2 separate regions of the Homo sapiens genome follow, and region 2 is linked to region 1. Evidence: fine-mapped expression QTL. A gene starts in region 1. The other region holds a variant in brackets. All regions are shown on one strand. Distances are between the middles of the regions. Region 1 holds the start of HEXIM2-AS2 (HEXIM2 antisense RNA 2). Region 2 overlaps FMNL1-DT (FMNL1 divergent transcript).

Evidence for each region. PIP is the estimated chance that this variant, and not a neighbour inherited with it, causes the effect.
Region 2: its variant is fine-mapped to the expression of HEXIM2-AS2 in whole blood (TOPMed, PIP above 0.99).

The regions. Positions count from the first base shown.
Region 1 is chr17:45,169,935-45,172,726 of GRCh38, reverse strand. It overlaps HEXIM2-AS2 (HEXIM2 antisense RNA 2), which reads left to right and starts at 1,242. Exons shown (of 2, transcript NR_135646.1): 1 at 1,242-1,763; 2 at 2,397-2,792. HEXIM2 (HEXIM P-TEFb complex subunit 2) reads right to left here. Exons shown (of 4, transcript NM_001303441.2): 4 at 2,692-2,792. RefSeq lists enhancers at 1-433, 1,011-1,305, 1,392-2,350 and a silencer at 551-845.
Region 2 is chr17:45,200,490-45,203,281 of GRCh38, reverse strand. All of the region lies in intron 2 of FMNL1-DT (FMNL1 divergent transcript), which reads left to right. Among named protein-coding and RNA genes, the nearest start is that of FMNL1-DT, 20 kb to the left of the region's middle. RefSeq lists a silencer at 535-719. The variant G/C (reference allele first, on the strand shown) is at 1,201.

The DNA of each region.
Region 1 (2,792 bases):
CCTCCCCTCCCCACATGCACAGCCCCTGCACATGCTCAGTGTGCCCATGAATTGGGTTGGTTGGGGGAGGGCACTGACTGGCACCCCCACTTAAAGGGCCAGTGCCACACTTGCCTGTTCCCAACAAGGGCAATGGGACCTGGCCACCTTTCCCCCCAATACCGTTACTTCCCTTTGGACCCCCTCCCCCCACTCCCTGGCAGCTTCTTCCTGCCCCAGCCCACCAATCTCTGCCTACCCCTCTCCCTCATACTCTGACCCTATTGCAGGCAGGGTCTGTCCACTGGGCACAGGAGTTTCCACCTGGGGTCGGGCAGTTCCTGCCGGGGAAGAAAGAGGGATCCTAAGACAGGCTGGGCAGGGGTGGTGGGAGGCTTCAACAGTCACTCCCATGAAACATATGTTCTCTGCGCTTCCCTTCCCCGGCCCAGTTGACCAAGAGGGTCCCAGAAAGCACAGGGCGTGAGGGCAGCTGTGGAAAGGCCCAGGGAGGCTGTGTCCAAGCCCAACTTCCCCAGCTAGGGCGTGTGATGTGGGGGTGGGGGTGTCTTGTAAACTGGAGCTTCCACCATTGCAGTAGGCGGAGTGGAGGCCCAGGCTTCAAGACCAAGCAGCAGGTGTGGGAACAACTGGAAGCAGCGAAGGGGGCGGGGCACCGAGGGACCCAGGCCTGGCTCCCACCCACAGCTGAGCCGGTTCTCTCCAGTGCTAAGCCCCAGCTCTGGCCCCAGGACGATCTCCTCCCTGCACACCCCTTACCCAGGAATCAGGGAGCCAGACAGGGGGAGGGGCAGACAGGGACCCTTTTCACGGACCCCTCCCATTTGGGTTCAGGCCCTCCCACACTCCCGGCTAGCATCCTCTCCTTTGTTCTCTTCTTGCCCCACCCGCCCTCCAGCGGGGTGAGGTGGGGGTGCGGGAATTAACCCACCGAGGTGCTGCCCTATTTGCGCCCTTCAGCCTTTTACGTGTAAGGGGGATGTTGGAGGAGCAGCTGGCAGCTTCCCTGCCTCCAGGCTCCTCAGCTTCTGGGCCAAGAAAGGCCAAACTCTTCACCTGCCCCTCCCTGGCATAACCAGCCCACAATGAGCACCCAGCACCCTCACCCACACCCCTCCCCCGACACTCCAGCAGCCCTCTGGAATCTTCTCTCACCTCCTAGACACACACACACAGAGGCACCTCCGGGTAAACAACCTTTGTCCACCTTTGTCCCAGGCCTCCTCTCTCCCTCGGGCTCCATGCTGAGGAATGCAGCTGGGAGGCTGCCAGCAAATGCCAAGGGGCCTCTGGGTCCCAGGCTAGCACCCCACAGCACCCCACAGGGGCAGGCAGGCCTCCAGAGGCTCTCCTGGAATCCAAAAAGCCACTTCCTCGCTAAGCCTCCGGTTTCCCGTCTGCAAAGTGGCGATGATCATTCCTGCTGCCCTTCCTGACTGAGCTGTCTGAGGACCCAGGGTTCCAGGGGCAGGTCTCCCAGGATGAGATTTTGCTTTCTCTTGAAACCCATGCGTTCCTAGAATCTGTTCTGTGTTTCATTGTAGGAGGCTCTGGCCAGGCCTGGGTGTGGCAGGATAGAAATGAAAGTTGTCCTGGCAACACACAAGATTTCATCAACATTTCCATCCCCAGCAGCTCCTGGGCCAAGCCTCATCTTGCCCAGTGTGGCCTGTCAAGATGACGGCCTGGAAGAGAAGCCAGACTGGGCAGCCAGGCCTCTGCCCCTCCCCTTGCCTGGTGGCACAGCCAGCACTGGCTCACTGGTGAGTTGACTAATTTCCTCCGCCACCATTAGTTGTCCATGTTCATTGCTGCCTGACACCCAACACCAGTCTGCAAGGGCACCAGGAGGGGATGGAAGAGACAGGGTGTCTGGGGAAGGGTGGGTCTGAGTGCGAGGGGGTGGGTGAGCTTGTCTCAGAGCCTGACGCTGGCTGGTGGTATCTGCGTTACCCAGGCTGACCCAGCTCTCTCTGATGCAGACAGGCGAGGGCCTCACACACTTCAGAGAATTCACACCCACATGATGAGGCTGAGAGGAGCAGGACGCACAGACACATGGCAGGCACCAGGAGAGCCAGGCTGCTCTGCTCTGCTGGCGATCCATGTGCTGTCCCCCTCTGTCTCTTGACTTTATTTTCCATCAGGAGAGCGCCTCCCTTATTACCCTTGGGAGGTAAGGGACAAACACAAACACATGATGACTAACCTCAGGCCCAACCCCCTGCAGAGAGGGGTCAGGGTTGGGGGCTGTCAAGAACAAGGAGGCACAAGGCACCCAGAACCCGTCTAGTCCAGCCTTTAAACTGTGGGGAGAATACAGGGAGCTCAGGAGCAAACTCTGAAGGAACCCCTGGGCCTGGGTCTTCTCCGAAAACCCCCGTTCTCTCCTCCAGGGAAAGCTCACAACTCCTCACAGCGATCTGGTATCTTGAGCGTCAGTTTCTGGCCGAAACTGGGGGCTCCTGACTGAACTCCCTCCCACCTAGAAAACCTTCTGTGCAGTCTGATTGCTCCAACACCCACAGAGCAGGATTCAGGTATCCCGGAGACCTTGGGAGGTCCCCATCCAGAGGTCTGCTGTCCTGCCAGGCTTGGGGCAGCAGGGACTGGGACCCCACTCAGACCTCTCTGGGGCAAATGTTTTGGTTCTCACAACAGCCCTAGTGAAATCAATCCTAGATACTCCCATTTGGTCCCACCAAGGCCATTTAATTTCTCTGTAAAGGGTAAGATGACACAAAAGAGCCAACTATGGAAACGGTGAGGTGGGAGTCTGAACCGATTTAGCT
Region 2 (2,792 bases), 31 kb before region 1:
AAAAGAGAAACAAAATCATGGCCTTTGCAGCAACCTGGATAGAATTGGAGACCATTATTCTAAGTGAAGTAACTCAGGAATGGAAAATCAAACATATGTTCTCACGTATAAGAGAACACAAAGGCATAAGAATGAACAATGGACTTTGGGGACTCTAGGGGAAGATTGGGAGCGGGGGCGAGGGATAAAAGACTACACACTGGGTACAGTGTACAAGCTTGGGTGGTGGATGCACCAAAATCTCAGAAATCACCACTGAAGAACTTATCCATGTAACCAAACACCACCTGCTCCCCAAAAGCCTACTGAAATAATTTATAAAAGGAACGGGCTGGGCGCAGTGGCTCACGCCTGTAATCCCAGCACTTTGGGAGGCCGAGGTGGGTGGATCAACTGAGGTCAGGAGTTTGAGATGAGCCTGGCCAACATGGTGAAACCTCGTCTCTACTAAAAATACAAAAATTAGCTGGGCGTGGTGGCAGGTGCCTGTAATCCCAGCTACTTGGGAGGCTGAGGCAGGGGAATCACTTGAACCCAGGAGGCAGAGGTTGCAGTGAGCCGAGATTGTGCCACTGCACTCCAGCCTGGGTGACACAGTGAGACTCCATCTAAAAAAACAAAAACAAAAACAAAACAAAACAGGCCAGGCACCGTGGCTCACACCTGTAATCCCAGCACTTTGGGAGGCCAAGGCGGGAGGATCACGAGGTCAGGAGATCGAGACCATTCTGGCTAACATGGTGAAACCCTGTCTATACTAAAAATACAAAAACAAAATTAGCCGGGCGTGGTGGCGGGTACCTGTAGTCCCAGCTACTCGGGAGGCTGAGGCGGGAGAATGGCGTGAACCCAGGAGGCGGAGCTTGCAGTGAGCCGAGATTGTGCCACTGCACTCCAGCCTGGGTGACAGAGCGAGAGTCCGTCTCAAAAAATAAAAAAAAAAGAAAAAGAAAAAACAGGAAACAATAACTGGGGGGAAAAAAGAAAAAGAAAATGGCAGAGCCGAGACAATAACCCAGAAATTGGGACCCAGCTTTCTTCACTGTTTCCCCTGTACCAGGGACAGCCAGTTTCCAAAGCTCTCCCTCCCAACAGCCAGCCAACATGTAGGTCCCTGTGATGAAAGCCAAGAGCAAGGCCAAGCCTTAGGCAAGCCCTGAACCTCTTTGCTCATTATTGCATAACTTTTTTTTTTTTTTC[G/C]AGACAGAGTCTCATTGTGTCACCCAGGCTGGAATGCAATGACCCAATCTCGGCTCACTGCAACCTCCGCCTCCCAGGTTCAAATGATTCTCCTACCTCAGTCTCCCAAGTAGCTGGAATTACAGGCATGCGCCACCACACCGAGCTAATTTTTGTATTTTTAGTAGAGACTGGGTTTTGCCATGTTGACCAGGCTGGTCTTGAACTCCTGACCTCAAGTAATCCTCCCGCCTCAGCCTCCCAAAGTGCTGGGATTATAGGCATGAGCCACTGCGCCTGGCCATTATTCCATAAATATTGATGGAGGGCCAACTGCATGCCCAGTGCCGAGGGATAGAGAAGAATTAGACCCCAACCTGCCTAAAAAGAGCTCACGGCCTGGGAAAGGAGTATGAGGGGAGGTCTGTTTGCCCTAGGGGCTGCTGAGGAAGAAACACTAAGCCCAGATCCATTCCTGACATAATTCTGCCTGGACATCCACTGAGTCAGGGTCAGAGACTCAGGGCTGCCCTCCTGGGTTGTTGAAGGAGAGGCAAAGTTGAAACCACTAGAAGGTGGGGCTCCTCCAGGGGAAAGACCAATTCCAGGCACCCCATCTGAGGACAAAAGCTGAGAGAACATCTTCACTGGGGTGTGGGGAGTATACAAGAAATACCAGGACCAGGCCGGGTGTGGTGGCTCATGCCTGTAATCCCAGCACTTTGGGAGGCCAAGGCGGCTAGATCAGCTGAGGTCAGGAGTTCTGGAGACCAGCCTGGCCAACATGGTGAAACTCTGTCTCTACTAAAAATACAATAATAAGCTGGGCGTGGTGGTGGGCGCCTGTAATCCCAGCTACCTGGGAGGCTCAGGCAAGAGGATCACTTGAATCCGGGAGGCGGAGGTCACGGTGAGCCGAGATCATGCCACTGCACTCCAGCCTGGGCAATAGAGTGAGACTCAGTCTCAAAAAAAAAAAAAAAAAAGAAAGAAAAGAAAAGAAAAAAAGACCAGGACCTGCAGAATTTTCCTGACAAGCCACCACCTGCAAAGCTGGCTCCACAGTGGATCCACCTCTGTACCTCCCAGAGCAGCCGGCATTCTGTCATTTTTGTTGAAGGAAATGGGCAGAGACTGGGACAGCCAAGCGCGGCCTTCTGTGGTTTTAGGGAGAAGGGCGGGTGAGCCAGTCCGTTGCCCTGAGAAGAGGTCAAGAGGATGAAGACTATGAAAGCGACTGAGTTGGGCAATTAGGGGTCCCTAGTGGCCTTCAAAAAGAATGCTTTCAACAGCAGCTGCTGAAATTTCAAGGGCAAGTTCGGTAGCGGGAGGGGAAGAGGGAGAGAGAGAATGCAGAGCCTAAGCCAGCCATCAGCAGAGTGAAGACACACGCATAATTCATGATGTCCTTCTTAACTTGTTTTGAAAATCTGATTTTTTTGACAGACAACTCAGGGGTTAATCAACCTCAGAGGTTCAGAAGTTCCATGAATCCCTTAAAGTGGAGAGAACTCCACCCAAACAATATAATATTGCTTATATTTGCACCAGGGAGACATAGCCTGAATCTATCCATAAGGAAATACCAGACAAACCTCAAATAAGGTGCATTC